Linked DNA regions of Homo sapiens: region 1 is linked to region 2. The links come from fine-mapping of genetic effects on gene expression. A gene starts in region 2. The other region holds a variant in brackets. All regions are shown on one strand. Distances are from middle to middle.

Evidence for each region. PIP is the estimated chance that this variant, and not a neighbour inherited with it, causes the effect.
Region 1: its variant is fine-mapped to the expression of SARAF in whole blood (TOPMed, PIP above 0.99).

Annotation. Positions count from the first base shown.
Region 1 is chr8:30,051,970-30,060,660 of GRCh38, forward strand. No RefSeq gene overlaps it. Among named protein-coding and RNA genes, the nearest start is that of SARAF, 27 kb to the right of the region's middle. RefSeq lists an enhancer at 4,971-6,170. The variant T/C (reference allele first, on the strand shown) is at 4,385.
Region 2 is chr8:30,077,883-30,086,573 of GRCh38, forward strand. SARAF (store-operated calcium entry associated regulatory factor) reads right to left here and starts at 5,182. Exons shown (of 6, transcript NM_016127.6): 1 at 4,965-5,182. The coding sequence starts at 5,067. RefSeq lists an enhancer at 4,746-5,095 and a silencer at 5,136-5,505.

The DNA.
Region 1 (8,691 bases), 26 kb before region 2:
GGACTTCTCTTCTTCTGCCCACTTATTCAAGAATCCCAGGATGTTGTCCAGAATGGATGAACATATTTCTGAAATGCCTTCTGGAGAGCAATCCAGAGGATCCAATCCATCACCAGCAGACCTAACTTTCAGCTACCATTGTTGTTGCCACATTATGAATACTGGTCTTTCCCAGTCTGGTATATTCTTTTCCACTGTTCTTTTCCATCCATATTCCTATGCAGGTCACAGTGGTGTCCTCCTCCCTCACTTCCCAGGTAATAGCTCTCCAGGTTAAAACCACATATGCAGACATTCTTCCCAACACACTCATTGTGCCCTTGTGGATCCAGGACAATTCCAGTTCCAGACATAGCCACAAGCTAACCCAGAACCCACTTTTTCCCAAGACTATGTAGAATCGGGTAATAACCCAGAATTCCCGGTCTTCACTCATCCTTCTCTCCCCTAAGAGCTGCCTCTAACCATCCAAAAGGTACTATTTATGAGGAAGTCCAAAAGAGATGTGTGAGAGATACTGCATACTCTTCCAGTAGCCACCTGGGTTTCCATGAAAATGTACTTCTGCTTAAGCAAACTTTCATCTCTGCATATTTTAAAAAGCAGCCTTCATCAAGCCCTTTTTAAAAGGCTTTGTTGTACATTTCCCCAAGAGCAATAGATGTCTGCTTACCCTATCTTTACTTATGAACCACAAAGAACAAAGAAGATCCGCTTTGGAATGACTCACTTTATCCTCCCATGCAGGAAGATCAAAGGCCAAGTTTAAATGGCAGCTTCTCTGACATCCATATCTTAATTACAGTCTGGGTGCCACATTTAAGCATAAATCTTATTCTAGAAATATATCTTATAAATCTAAACACATGTACATTAAAGATCTAAACTATAATAAAGTCTCTGACTCCAGTGTTTGGAGCAGCTACAACATAAACTCATGTACAAAAGATATGTTCGGATGTTCATTATTGCATTGTTGAAAATAGGGAACAAAATTGAAAATGTGGTAAATGTATATTGATATTGATAAAGGAATGGTGAGATTAAATTATAATATATCCATATGATGGAATACTATGCAGCTGTGAAAAGAATAGATTTATTCTTTGTGAAAAAATTCTGGACATTGTGTATAATTTCTATAATAATAACCAAAAAATGTTAACAGAAATTATTTCTAGGTAGAGAGACCACACTGAGAGGATGAAACGAAGGGGGCCGTGGGGAGTTGGGCAGATATAGACTTTTTTCTTTTTGGAGACAGGGTCTTGCTCTGTCGTGACTGACACGGTCATAGCTCATTGCAGCCTCAGACTCCTGGGCTCAAGTGATCCTCCTACCTCAGCCCCCTGAGTAGCTGAGATTACAGGCATGTGCCACCATGCCTAGCCAGATACAGACTCTTTCTTTTCTCTTTATATCCTTCTAAACTGTTCGAATGTTTTACAAAGAACTTGCATTGCTTTTCTTTTTTCAATTATGAAATATGCATATTTTAACTTATATATAGTTGTGAATGATTTATCTATATAATTTAATTAAATATAATTTAACTTGATAAATACTCATAATTTTGAATATTTTAATGTAAGGAAGAAATGTGTCTTTTCTCCTTTAATAAGGAAAGATTGTGCTGGGGATTTAAAAAACAAAAAACAACAACAACAAAAAAAAACATGATCAAACCTAGGTAGATGACCAGATGGTGGAGGATCCAAAAGCTAGGTAAAGTAAGAAATGATTGAGAGTGTTTTGGATTTTTAACTTGAATAAAAAATAGAGCTGTCTTCAAATATCTACAGTAAGGGAATTCCACTTTTATGTTTGTGAGGGCAAGATGATTTGAACCAATCCTATCACACACGGAAACTAACAAAACTGAGCAAAATATGAAAAGACATCTTCCCGAAGGCATCACAGAGCTAGCAAAATCATGAAGATTTACTATTTCTGGATCCAGGGAAGACAGGAACTCCTATAAATTATGTGGGCATTATTCCCATCCTGCCCTTCATCCACTAGAAAATGATTTACTTAGAAACAATGTGAAACATTGTGATACACAATAAGGCATTCTGTAAATCTACATATCATGGTTTCAACAACAGCCTTTCGAGTGGGAAGGGCCAATCCAAACCCAGAGTAAATGTCTACTTCAGTGACAACAAATCATTGCCCCTTTCATGATAGAAGTGGTCTCATGTAATCAACATGCCACCAGATGGTGGGCTGATTTCCCCAGGGAATTGAACCGTATTCAGGGTTCAGTGTTGGCCTCTGCCGTTGGGAGATAGGGCACTCAGCAGCGGTTGTAACCTGATCGGTTTTGGTGAATGGAAGACCCTTTTGCTGAATCGATGGATAACTTTCATCCCTACCACCTTAGCCACTTTGTTTATGAGCCAATGAAACAGGAGTAGGGCTTGCTGAAAAAAAGAGGCTGAATAATAGCCACAGAAAATGTCATCTTATGAAGTGACTTAAGATGCAACGTTCTGTCGGGGACATGAACTACTTACTGATCCTAATACTCTGAGTGGATGGTTTCCTGAGGGATGATGGCTTCCTGCTTGGATGTGATGATGCCTATAGTAAGCAAGGTGGAGATGCCAGAATTTCTGTGATATTCTACTACTCAGGTAGTTGTAAGCATGTATATTGGACAAAAAAAAAAAATCTCATCTTTGTTAAGAGAGGACCATACATCTACATTTCCCCCAGATATCCTTATCAATTTTTCTTTCTTTTTTTTTTTTTTTTTGGAGACAGAGTCTCGTTCTGTCACCCAGGCTGGAGTGCAGTGGCACGATCTCATCTCACTGCAACCTCTGCCTCCTGGGTTCAAGTGATTCTTCTGCCTCAGCCTCTCGAGTAGCTGGGACTACAGGTGTGTGCCACCACGCCTGGCTAATTTTTTGTATTTTTAATAGAGACAGGGTTTCACTGTGTTAGCCAGGACGGTCTCGATCTCCTGACTTTGTGATTTGCCTGCCTCAGCCTCCCAAAGTGCTGGGATTACAGGCGTGAGCCACTGCGCCCAGCCTAATTTTTGTATTTTTAGTAGAGATGGGGTTTTACCATGTTGGCCAGGCTAGTCTCTAATGCCTGACCTCAGATGATTCGCCCACCTCGGCCTCCCAAAGTGCTGGGATTACAGGCATGAGCCAGCTTGCCCAGCTTTATCGTCAATTTTTCAGTCTCATTTTTCCAAGCCCCTGGTCACCCATTCAAACCAGAAACCACTGTCTATTTTGAAAAGTGTAGATACATATGTCTTGCCATCTCTTATTTCAGATGCATAGCTCAAAATTCCACCCCCTCAGGGCACTTCCCTTCACTGTCCTTCCAGGTGGTATCAGCATATCATGCAGATCCATTTGTAAATCAGGCTACTCTTGACTTGCTGTCCTGTATGGAATTCCATCCACCTTGGTTGGCTCTGACAATGAAGAGATGCAATTTGCCACTTCGGAAACCCACTATCTCTGTTAATCTTGGGAAGTCCATTTTCATGACAGCATTTCCCACTATTAACCTTTGCCTACAGAGGACAACTATCATTGAGCCCTTAAAAATGCTAATAACTCTCTCACCAGTACCTTCCTTACTACCTTGGTAAAGGGAGATGCTCTGAACCCTCAGAGTAGAGTCAAATGTTGGATTATTCAGTCTCATAAGTAAATTCTAACATCCCACTTCCTTGAGTCTTCAGATACTGTGCTCAATACTATACCATAGAAAGTCTGGCATCTCTACCTCACTTACGGTAGGCATCATCACATCCAATCAGGAAACCATCATCATCCATCAAGAAACCATCCCAGAAAATTATTAGAACCAGTAGCTCATGTCTTTGACAGAACATTGAATCCCAATTCACAGGTGAACATAAAGGACTTCTCTTTCCACCATATTTCACCCCTCCCACAGCCCAACTTCCAGATGAATTTCCACATGGTTTATCCCTACTCTCGCTGGTACATATTAGCTGTATGGTACCATGATTTTTTTAGTATGTGACCTATTTCCTCCCAAGGCAAGTGCTATAATTCCAAGAGGTTATCATTCTTTTGCTGTGTGGCTTATTTCCTCCCAAAGCAGGGACTGTCTTTCCCTGTTAAGGTTGAGATCTGACTCTAGTTATTGGCCTGGAGGCAGAGATGTGGCAGGACTCAGTTTTAAGAAAAAATGCTATCTTACAAGGCATCTGCTTCAGGTGAGGCCGTTACATGGTCTCTAGACAAGGAAGGCTAATCCCCTTCAGCAAGAAGGAAGGGGCTGCTATGCCAGAAAGAAAGACTTAGGAAGATGTCGATGTTCAAGTTCTTCTGATTCCTTGAACAGTCCAATTCCAAAATTCCATCCTGTACAACTTTCACACCAA[T/C]TGTCTTAACACAAGTCCTCTAGAAAGCAGAACTCAAGCAAAAAAAAAGAAAAACATTTCTGGCACTTGGACAGAAGCATGTCCAAAGACACAGGGTGAGGGAAAAAAGTGAGACAAATAAAGATGTGATGCAATGGCATGCAATGGATTGCGGCACTGCTTCACAATGAGCTACAGACACACAGTAGGTCGCTTTGCAGGCAGGTTCACTCTGCACAAAGGACTTCTCCAGAAGAGTTGCAAAAAGAAAACACATCTTGCAGTAATCCCTGAAAAGATAGGAATTTATTTCCCATTGGTCATTGCTCATTCCATTGAGCTAATTCCCTAAACAACTGAGTTGCACCATCTGGGCTCCCGGCAGCCACACAGGAAACCATATTCCACACCTTGCAATGTGTCGTCTTATTCAAATCTCAAAGTGGAGGGGTGACCTGGTGTGGGTGTGACACCAACCACGTGAAAGGAGAAGGCAGTTAAGAGCCTCTGAGAAGGTGTACAAGTGGTGCTGATATAGTGGATTTGGAAGTTCCAGTGCACAAGGAAGGAATGCTTCCACCAGGAAACACTGTCACGATGAATTGGAAACCTGAGACTGTCCTTGGACAGTTTGGGCTCCTCATGCTACTGAACAAATGGACAAAGTAAGGGGCCACTCTAACAGGTAATTCATCCTAATTATCAAGGGAAAATTAGGTTGCTGGCCAGGCGCGGTGGCTCATGCCTGTAATCCCAGCACTTTGGGAGGCCAAGACGGGCGGATCACTTGAATTCAGGCGTTCATGACCAGCCTGGCCAACATGGTGAAACCCCGTCTCTACTAAAAATACAAAAATTAGCCAGGCATGGTGATGGGCACCTGTAATCCTAGCTACCCTGGAGACTGAGGCAGGTGAATCACTTGAACCCAGGAGGCAGAGTTTGCAGTGAGCCAAGATCACACCACTGCACTAAAGCCTGGGCAACAGAGCAAGACTATTCTGAAAAAAGAAAAAAAAATGAATATTAAAATGACTCTTGAGCTTGCCCAATAACCTGGACCTATCACAGAGCCTTCTTTTGTTCTAGGCTCCTGTTAAAACTAGCAGCTTTGCGATCAGTCAGTAAATGGACTAGAGTTGCATACCACATAAGGAATATGTTGCCCGCAAGATCCACTAGGTATTGCATCATTTTTTTCATCTGGAGCCAGATGTAACGATTTATCCTTGGCCTTAGAAAGATATTTCAACATGTCCCATACTACTGGACTCCTAGAAATTTCCCTGAGGTAGAAAGCCCCTGAATCTTTGTCAGATTTGTTTCCCACCCTCTAACATACAAATGCCTTACCAATACATCTACAGTAGTTGCTACTTCTTGGTAGTTGCTCTTCTTGCTCATCAGATCCAATCAGCTTAATATAATAAATGTCATGGACCAGTGTGAAGTCTTGTGGAAGGGAAAGGTAACCAAGGTCCTTGCAGACTAAATTATGACATAGGACTGAAAAGTGAAGGTGTATTGCTGGCCCTGCCAGCTGAAAGCAAGCTGCTTCTGATGGTGTGTACTAACAGGTATGGAGGAAAAGCATTTGCCAGAGCACTTGTGTTTCAACTACCAGATATGTTCATGTACCCAAGTGATGAAACTACATCTGGAACAGCAGTTGCAATTGAAGTCACCATCTGGGTAAGTTTATGACAACCTATTATTACTCTCTATCCGTTTTCGGCACAGGCCAAATAGGCGAGTTGAATGGGGATGTGGTAGGAAGCACCAGCCCTATATCCTTCAAGTCCTTGATGGTGGCATTAATCTCTGTAATCCCTCCAGAAAGGCAGAACTTACTATCTCACGGTTCTAGAGGCTGTGAGTCTGATATCCAGGTGGTAGCAGGGCCATGCTCCCTCTGTATGTGCTGAGGAAGGATCTGTTCCAGGCCTGACTCTCAGCTTCTGGTGGTTTGCTGGTAATCTTTGGCATATATTGGCTTTTGGCAGAACTCCAGACATTACATGATTATTTCTGTTTGTGTGTCTGTGTCCAAATTTCCTCATTTTATAATGACATGAATCATTGGTGTTCACTCTACTCCAGTATAACCTCATCGTAATTTCATCTGCAGTAACCCTGTTATGGTTTGGATGTTTGTCCCCTCCAAATCCCACATTGAATGTGATTCCCAATGTTGCAGGTGGGGCCTGGTGGGAGGTGTTGGGAGCATACAGGAGGATTCCCTCATGAATGGTTTAGCACCATCCCCCTCGTGATGAATGAGTTCTTGCTCAGTTAGTTCACACAATATCTGGTTGTTTAAAAGTCTGGGACCTGGCCAGGTGCGGTAGCTCACACCTGTAATCCCAGCACTTTGGGAGGCCAAGGCAGGAGGGTCACTTGAGGCCAGGAGTTCAGCCAACATGGTAAAACCCTGCCTCTATTAAAAAAAAATACAAAAATTAGCCACGTGTGGTGGCACACACCTGTAATCCCAGGTACTCAGGAGGCTGATGCAGGAGAATCACTTGAACCCACGATGCAGAGGTGAGGTGAGGCAGTGAGCCAAGATCACACCACTGCAGTCCAGCCTGGGTGACAGAGCAAGACTCTGTCTCAAAAAAAATCAGTCAATCAATCTGGGACCTCCCTCCCTCGCTCTCTCTTGCTCCCACTCTCACCATGTGACGCACCTGTTCCCTGCACCTTCCACCATGATGGGAAGCTTCCCAAGGCATCACCAGGAGCAGATGCCGGCACCATGCTTCCTGTACAGCCTGCACAACTGTGAGCCAATTAAACCTCTTTATAAATTACTTGGTCTCCGGTATTCCTTTATAGCAACACAAATGGACTAACATAGACTCTATTTCCAAATAAGATCACATTCTGAGGCACAGAGCTCAGGCACTTTCTGTGTCCCTCCATTTCACCCCATTTCCTCACTCCAACTCTCCCTAGTCGCCTTCATCTCTAACTTGGATGTTCTTCCAATTGGGATTCCCCACAAGTCCTCTCAGCCCCTTTAATCAAGTGTCCATATCACAGCCACTATTGGTTTATCATTTTTGTAGATAGAGGTAGTTCTAGTGACTTTCACTTGGCCTATGCCACCATAACAGCCTTCATTCCACAGGTCAGGGACCCAACGTAGAGATTCTGCTAGTTGCTGAGTATGTCTATTCTAATCCTGCATTCTAGAACGCAGGTTCCATTCCTGTGTAATAATCACAGGATCATTCGAGGGACCCATGGGACTCACTGTGAAATTGATCTGAGCTAAAACTCTATAAGCTCTTACTCTGACTGGTGGACCACAGTAATGTTTTGAGCCTCCTGGAATTAGCATCAATTCAGTGTCCAGTAATCCCTAAACTATCTGATTATTTTCCCTTTCCCCAGGGCATAGTTACCCCAGTAAATAGCCACGGGTCCATTGAGGGAAGACTGGGGGAAAGATAAACAATATAAACCTGGCAATGTGGTAGGGTTCTTCCTCAAGGGGAACCCAGCCTCTCCTTCATTGAAGGGATTCTGGAGCTATAAACCAGCTCAAGTCTAGGAAATGATTCAGAGGCTATGACTCACTTGTGGTGACTTAAGATAGACTTCTGTTGGCTGGGCACAGTGGCTCACACCTATAATCCCAGCACTTTGGGAGGCCGAGGCGGGCGGATCACCTGAGGTCAGGAGTTTGAGACCAGCCTGGCCAACTTGGTGAAACCCTGTCTCTACTAAAAATACAAAAATTAGCCAGGCATGGTGGCAGGCGCCTGTAATCCCAGCTACTCGGGAGGGTGAGGCAGGAGAATTGCTTGAACCTGGGAGGCAGAGGTTGCAGTGAGCCGAGATCATGCCCCTGCTCTCTCCAGCCTGGGTGACAGAGTGAGACTTGGTCTCAAAAAAAAAAAAAAAAAAAAAAAAAAGACTTCCGTTTACTCAGCCTAGAACTCTTCCACATACATAAATCAAATAAGAATTTAGTAGACTGCCATCTATTTCTTCCATAGGTACACAATGATCAACCAGCCAATGCCATAGGTCTCTGAGTCAGACAATTCTTGTTAATTTTTGTTTCATAAAATTTTTTGTAGAGATAGAGTCTCACTATATTGCCCAGGCTGGTCTCAAACTCCTGGCCTCAAGCAATCCTCCTGCCTCTGCCTCCCAAAGTTCTGGGATTACAGTCATGTGCCAGTGTTCCTGGCCTGAGTCCAACAATTCTGATGGCTGCTTTGACTCTGCTGCCCATTACAGCATAACCATGCCACGCTATCTTTGCTGATTGTCACCATTTGGCCCCTGCTACCCTGGGATCAAATTAACCCCAC
Region 2 (8,691 bases):
TGTAATCCCAGCACTTTGGGTGGCCGAGGCAGGCAGATCACAAGGTCAGGAGTTCGAGACCAGTCTGGCAAATATGGTGAAACCCCGTCTCTACTAAAAATACAAAAATTAGCCAGGCATGGTGGCGGGCACCTGTAATCCCAGCTACTCAGGAAGATGAGACAGGAGAATCGCTTGAACCCGGGAAGCAGAGGTTGCAGCGAGCCGAGATGGTGCCACTGCACTCCAGCCTGGGGGACAGAGCTAGACTCCGTCTCAAAAAAAAAAAAAAGAAAGAAAGAAAAAAGACAGTAGGAGGAAAAAAAAAAAAAAGAAAGAAAGAAAATTACCAGTTCAGGACCAGTTCAGAAAGTCCAAAAATCCAACAAGGGCTTCTGAAAGAATGAACAAGGGAATCTGATTAGACAAACTCCAGGCTGTAATTCAAGAAAAGTTCCCACACTGAAGGACTTGAGTTGTCATACTGAAAGGGCCCAACAAATACCCAGGCCTGAGAAACAGACCACACAAAGGCACACGAAAAGTAAATTTTAGAACACTGAAGACAAAAAAAGATTCTACAAATTGCCAGAAGAATAGGGAGAAAACAAGCCATATAGAAAAGATAAGACTTAGAAAAGCTTCAGGTATCTCAACAGGATAGAAAAAGAAAATGGAGAAATATATTCAAAAACTCTAAAGGAAAAAGTCTGGCTGGGTTTGCCAACCATCGCTTTGCTAATGGTGGAACAAACTGATGTTACAACATCTCCTATGATGTATTTCCCACAAGTATTTAATATGAATCTAATCAATCTAATAAACTTAAGGTCAATACCCTATCTATATAAAAAATATATATAGAGAGAGAGACCTAAATATACTTCCAACCAGGAACCCAATAGGGTTTTTTGGGGAAAGAAATTATGTTAAAGGTCCTGTGGACAATTTTTTTTTGAAAAAGAACACATAGGTTACCAGATAGTAAAGGTTACTATAAAATTATTATCATCAGCCAGGCACGGTGGCTCACGTCTGTAACCCCAGCACTTTGGGAGGCCAAGGAGGGCAGATCACCTAAGGTCAGGAGTTCGAGATCAGCCTGGACAACATGGTGAAACCCCATCTCTACTAATAATACAAAAATTAGCTGGACGTGGTGGCATACGCCCGTAGTCCCAGCTACTTGGGAGGCTGAGGCAGGAGAATCACTTGAATCCAGGAGGTGGAGGTTGCAGTGAGCTGATATTGCTACCACTGCACTCCAGCCTGGGCGACAAGAGTGAAACTCCATCTCAAAAAAAAAAAAAAAAAAAAAGATTATAATCAAAATAGTAGGGAATTGGAACAGAGACAAGGAAATTGTGAAACAAAAGAAAGATCAGAAATAAATCAAGATACATTTGGGAATTCAGTAAGATGAAGTGGTCTTTTTAATTTAGTGGATAAAAGATGTCTTCTTTAATAAATAGCACTGGCATAATTGACTATGCAGCCACAAGAAAATCCACCTAAAGCTATATAAAAATTTAATTCCACATGGGCTACAGATCTAAAATTTCCAAGAACTATATTCAAATAAACCATGCTACATTAAACACAAACTACTACCTCCTCATACATAAAAAATAAGACAATGAAAATGTTCAATGGTTTAGAAAAATCAGACTGTATTAATCAACTAAATAACAGAAATAATAAATTGAATTTATTGTAACAGAGTTGCAATAATGCAAAGAACACTGAACTAAGTTGGTGTCACTAACTGGCTGTGACTTTGGCCAAGGCATTTAATTTACCTGTGTAGAAGTTTCCTCACCTACAAAATTAAAATATTATCAACCTTGAAATTTGTTGTGAAGCTTAGATATAATTTATTATCTGGCTGAGTACTTGAAGCATAACAGGTGATCAGGTATGATAAATATTACTGAAAGTTTTAAGATGGAATAGCATTACCATAATCCTATAGCATCTTTCTTCCCTAGAGATTCTTAAGGTCCAAGAACAAAATTCTAATACCCACGCCCCACTAGTTAGATCAGTCAAGGGACACAGGAGCTCCCTGAACTCCAGACTCATAAATCAAAATCACGGCAGGTCTCAAACAAGATAAACAAAACCAAACTCCCCTAAACCTGATCATCCCACATTCTTCCACATCTCAGGAAATGGTTAACTCCATGCTTCTAGTTGCTCAAGCCAAAAACCTTGGACTTCTCATCTTCTCTCCTCTCACTCCTACATCTGATCCTTCAGAAGATCATGTTAGCTCCACCTTCCAAACAGGTGACAAGAGAATCCAGCTACTCTAACCAGCTCTCTACTGCTCCTGCCCTGGGCCAAGCGGTCACCACTCTAAGAACTTACTGTACAATATTAAAATAGATAGCAATATATATTAATTCACTGGTTTCCCTGCTTCCCTCCTACCCTCTTCGGTCTGTTTTCCACAGAGCAGCCCAAATGAGCCTTTAAAGATATAAGTAATTTCAGGTCATTTACTCCTCCTCCCCACTTCAGGTTTCCAGTCAAATGTCACCCTAACAGTGACTTCCCTGACCAATGTACGTTTTTTAAGTCTCCACTTCTGCCCGCACACCATGTCCTCCTTACGCTGTTTATCATACACGGTGCATACCAATTTTCACAATATAGCATGTTATTTACATGTTTATCTGTTTATTGTCTATTTCTCCCCAATAGAGGTAAAGTCCTTGGAGGCAAGACACTGTTTTGTTCACTGCTATATTCCCAACACCCGGAAGAGTAACTTAATATAAGATTACATTCAATAAGGAATTTTGAAAATTCATTGGTAATCTCTTTAGAATGGTGCTAATTTTTTTTTCCAGACAAATTACTGCTCAATGTGAGCTAAAGTAATGGCATCCAAGTCAAACAAAAGATAAATTAGGGAGCCGATTAATGCTTTAGTAAAGGACTTAATAAATAGTATGTCAATAAAGTATCTTCATTTAAAAAGTTCCTCAAAGTGCCGGGTGCGGTGGCTCACGCCTGTAATCCCAGCACTTTGGGAGGCCAAGGCGGGCGGATCACCTGAGGTTGGGAGTTCAAGACCAGCCTGACCAACATGGAGAAACCCTGTCTCTACTAAAAATACAAAATTTGCCGGGCATGGTGGCACATGCCTGTAATCCCAGCTACTCGGGAGGCTGAGGCAGGAAAATCGCTTGAACCCAGGAGGCAGAGGTTGCGGTGAGCCAAGATCGCGCCATTGCACTCTAGCCTGGGCGACAAGAGTGAAACTGTCTCAAAAAAACAAAACAAAACAAAAAAGTTCCTCAAAGTAAACTTTGAAGTAGAATTTACATAAAACAATTGAGTTTACTCTGCAAAATATTGTGGTGCTTTGTGTTCCAGAACAATAGTTTTACAGCGTAGATAAACCAGGAAGTGGTTCATCTTTAATTTAAATTTGGTTCTTCTTTCATAGTTTTTATAGTTCTTCTGGCTCTTCAACTGTAAACTTCCTTTATTAAATTTATTTACGAACTGATTCAAAGTTCAACAAATTAAAGTTTCATTCTAGGTTTTCACTTGTAATTCTGATCAAGTCTCCCACTCATACACAGCTTTCTAGAAATACAAAAGAAAAACGTACAGACATTTAAATACAACTTGGCTTTTTATTTTTGGTAATAAAATGTCCACATCAAATGACTACTCAACGTGATGTGCTTGCAAATAGCACCTTCTCTCTCATTTCAGCATGTAAGAATAGGCTATTATAGAAATAAACCTGTTGCTTAAATTCGACAATGCAGGCATTTCCAATCACCAAATCACAAAGGCAATATGCTTTCCATGCCATCTTTACTTCGCAAAGCAAAAATGATGTTGTTTTCATTTTTTTTTTTTTTTACAGAATTCCAAAGTAACAGCATGCGTCATTTATTACATGGAAAAAGTCAAAATCTGTATCTAAGTATATAGACATATACGTATTAATTGCACGGAATATTACTGATCCCATGAAAATTCTTTAGACAATTTTAATACTGTACTGACATAAAAGAACCTCTTTCCTAAAACCCACTTATCATGTACCATCACTAAAAAAAACCGAGAAAATTATTTTTTAAATTCTTCTCTACGGTGAAAGCCAATGGGAAGAGCTGGTGCCGCGCGATGTACATCACTGCAATCGTCAGATAAGAGGCAGCGGTTCTCATAAAGACGCGGTGGCTCACGCCTGTAATCCCAGCACTTTGGGAGGATGAAGGCGGGTGGATCACGAGGTCAGGAGGTCGAGACCAGCCTGGCCAACATAGTAAAACCCCGTCTCTACTAAAAATACAAAAAAATAGCCAGGCATGGTGGTGGGCACCCGTAATCTCAGCTACCGGTGAGGCCGAGGCAGGAGAATCTCTTGAACCCAGGAGGCGGAGGTTGCAGTGAGCCGAGATCACGTCATTGCAGTGCGGCCGGGGCGACAATGTGAGACTCCGACTCAAAAAAAAAAAAAAGAGTGCAATCTGCGATTCTGCTAACAGACCTGCGAGGTCTGCAGCCCTGTCCGCTAAGGGTGACTCAGAGACTGCCAGTGGCAGGCAACGGCCGGCGATAGCAACAGGCAGCCATGACAACAGCAGGCCACGATGACATCACACAGCCATAACAACAAAGCAGATGCGCAGGTGAGTGTCCAGCTCTCCAGTTATACTCAGAGATGAGAAAGACGACAATGGGCAAATTCCGGGAGTCCGGGGCAGGGAGAAAGGGGACCTTAAGGATCTCCAGCCGTCCCGCCCCGCCCACTCGAGCAGTCCCTACCCGCCTCCCAAGACGCCTGGGAAGAGCAGTGGAACCAGGGAGAGCACGAACAGCAAAGAGGTCAGACATGGGGAATCCGGGCACCCAGGCTCCGGGAAGACGGCGCACGGAAACGCAGGGGAGCCTGCACCGGCTGACGGCGGCGGAAAAGGGCGAACGAAGCGCCTGAGGGCCCTGGCAGCACTCACCAGGGTCGTTCCAGCCCAGGGCAGGGCCCGCGGTCAGCAGAAACAAATGCAAGCCGAGGAGCAAGCAGTACCCGGCCGCTCCCGGCCCGCAGGCTGCGGCCATGGCGCTCGATGAAGATGGCGCCGGGCTGCCAGACGCCTACGGGCCGAACCTGGGTGCGGTAGCGCGCGCGACGCTGCGCAGCTACACCGCTACCCCTGGCGGCGGCGAAGGAACGGCCCGACTGCAGAGCTGCAGCCGCAACGGATCCGTGCGCCAACCCTACGTCACTGCCGCTGCGGCCCGTGGGGCTCAGTGAGTGGCCGCCGTGGGCCCCCGCCCCTGGAGCACAGCGCGGCTTGGGGCGGGGCGAGGCGGTGTGGGCGGGGCCAAGGGCCTGGGGAGGCACGGCTGGAGGCGGGTTGGAGGCGTGGCGCCGCGGTGTGGGCGGGGCCGAGGGCCTGTCGCCGCCGCGCCCGCGGGCGGGGCGAGGGCAGCGCGCAGCTTTGTTGTGTCTCGTCTGAGATTCGGGAAGCTTCTGTGCGTAGGCGATGCAGTTTGAGAGGCTGAAAACGTCACGACGCGAAATCTAAGAAATGTAGTCAAATTATGTATTATTAAAACCTCAATAATTGTACCAAGGGTAGTTCTGTGCTTTATTCAGCTCTATGTGTTCAGCACTTAGCATAGCGCTTGGTACATGGTTAGTGTTCTATGACTGGTTGCTAAATACAGAGAAGATTCAAGCGAAAAGTAACAGGGAAATACATTGTCTGGTTTCAAGGCTCAGAACCTTTACATGGTTCCTTGCGCATGGAGGCCGGAAGACTATAAAATGTCAAGAGGAGAAAATATCGTCTGAATGAAGAACCAGCCAGAGAAAACAGTTCTCTGGGCTTTTGAGGTCTAGCAGGCTTGGGTTTCTTTCATTCATTCATTCATTCATTCATTCATTCATTCATTCAATGAATATATGTTGAATACCTAATACGCACCAGGCACTGTTTTAGGCATGGATGGTACAGACAAGATCCCTGTACTCATTGAAATAGAATAGGACAAACGACATACCAATTAAACAACAAAAATAATAGGTAATGATAGGTAATAACATTGATGAAAAACAGGGTGATATAATGGAGCCTGGGGACACAACTTCAGGGAGGGCCTTGCTGAGGAAGTGGTTTTTGAAGCTTGGGACCTGAATGATGAGAAAGAACTAGCCGTACAAAGATCAGGGGACTCATCTTCCCATCTGGGGAACAGTGGATGCAAAAGCCCTAACTTTGTGTTTCGAGGAAGAGTTATTTGGTCAGATCCTATAAAGAGTTCAGTCCCACAAGATGGCCCCAACTTCAGACATCAATCACAAGTCTCAGGTTGTGACCTATGCTTCTGACCAACCAGCTATAAATTAGGGTTTCCAGGCCGGGCGTGGTGGCTCATGCCTGTAATCCCAGCATTTTGGAAGGCCAAGGCAGGTGAATCGCCTGAGGTCAGGACTTTAAGACCAGCCTGGCCAGCATGGCAAAACCCCACCTCTACTAAAAATAGGAAAAATAGCTGGGCGTGGTGGTGCACACCTGTAATCCCAGCTATTTGGGAGGCTGAGGCAAGAGAATCGCTTGAACCTGGGAGGCGAAAGTTGCAGTGAGTCAAGACTGCCCCACTGCACCTGGACCATGGAGAGAGACTCCCTCTCAACAAATAAATTGGGGTTTTCATAACCCCCCATCTTGAGTTCCATAATTTGCTAGAATGGCTCACAGAACTCAAAAAAACACTTTATGTTTACCAGATTATTATATTGAGCACCTATTAGTACCTAACAGTACCTGCCAGGCACTGTTATCAGTATTGGGGATACAGCAGTGAATAAAACAAAATTTGGGGGACAAGAGGCAAACAAGGCCATAACTGAAGCAAAGTAAGTTAGGGGAAGAGTGGAATAAGAGATGGCAGAGCAGTGGGGCCTCGGCATGGAACCAACCAATGCTGGGACCAAGGACTGAAATAAGAGATAATAGAGAATCTATGCTCAACATGTTAAGTTTGAGGTGACTATTAGGCATCCAGGTAGACGTGTCAAATAAATAGATAAACTGTAAAAGTCTGAAGTTCAAAACTAAGGTAAATTTGGTAGTTATGTTGTAAATATAAAGATAGCATTTAATGTCATGATGCTATTGTTTGAATGTGTCCCCCAAAGCTCATGTGTTGGAAACTTATTCCCCAAAGCAATAGTGTTGAGAGGGGGGACTCTTAAGGGGTGATTAGGTTATGAGGGCAGAGCTCTTAATGCTATTATCACAGGAGTGGGTTAGTTATTGGGGAGTGGGTTCCCGATAAAAGGGATGAGTTCAGCTCCCTTTCTCTTTTGCCTACCACCGTGAAATGACACAGCAGGAAGCTCCCCACCAGATGCAGGCCCCTGGACCTAGGATTTCCCAGCCTCCAGAACCATAAGAAATAAATCTCTATACTTTATAAATTTCCCAGTCTCAGGTATTCTGTTATAGCAACACAAAATGAACTAAGACATGTGGGAAGAGACACAGTAACATGAGAGAATTGAGATACCACAAAAAAGGAGGCCCAGGCTATGGAAACACTAACATTTGAACCTCAAGCAGAAGATTCTAGAAAGAATCTGAGAAGTAACCTCTGGTGAAGAAGGAGGAAGAACTAGGACAATAGGATATGGTAATTGAGAGAAAGAAAGAATGGTCAACAGTGTCCACTGTTGCTGAAAGCTTGAAGCAAAATTTGGTCTCTGAATTTTGCAATGTAGAAATCACTAATTACCTTAACAAGAGAATGTTTGTTATTTTAGATTCCCACCATGTACCATGTACAGTTCTGGACAGTCATGAACAAAAGATGAAAGGTTGTTATAATAAACATTCTAGTGGGAGAGGTAGCCAACAAATCATGTCATTTCAAATAAATAAGTGCTTTGGGCCAGGCACGGTGGCTCACACCTGTAATCTCAGCACTCTGGGAAGCCGAGGCTCAGGATCACTTGAGACCAGGAGTTTGAGGCCAATCTGGGCAACATAGTAAGACCCCATCTCCACAAAAAATTGTTTTTAAAAAATTAGCCAGATGTGGCCAGGCACAGTGGCTCACGCCTGTAATCCCAGCACTTTGGGAGGCCGAGGTAGGCAGATCATGAAGTCAGGAGATCGAGACCATCTTGGCTAACACAGTGAAACCCCGTCTCTACTAAAAATACAAAAAATTAGCTGGGCATGGTGGCGGGTGCCTAAGTCCCAGCTACTCAGGAGGCTGAGGCAGGAGAATGGTGTGAACCCGAGAGGCGGAGCTTGCAGTGAGCCAAGATCGCACCACTGCACTCCAGCCTGGGCGAAAGAGTGAGACTCCGTCTCAAAAAAAAAAAAAAAATAGCCAGATGTGGTGGCATGTGCCTGTAGTCCCAGCCACTCAAGAGGCTGAGGTGGGAGGATCACTTGAGCCCTGGAGGTTGAGGCTGCAGCAAGCCATGACTGCATCACTGCACTCCAGCCTGGGCAACAGAGCAAGACTCTATCTCAAATAATAATAAGTACCTTGAAGAAGAAAACAGAGCAATATGACAGGTAGTGCCATAACAAGTAGGATGGCCCAGAAAAGATTCTCTGAGAAATTACCATTTGAGCTGAGAGCTAAATGATGAGGCTGTAAAAGGAAAAAACAAACTGTTTTCTCCTTTCTACTGGCACAAAACACAGAGCAGTTCTGTGACCA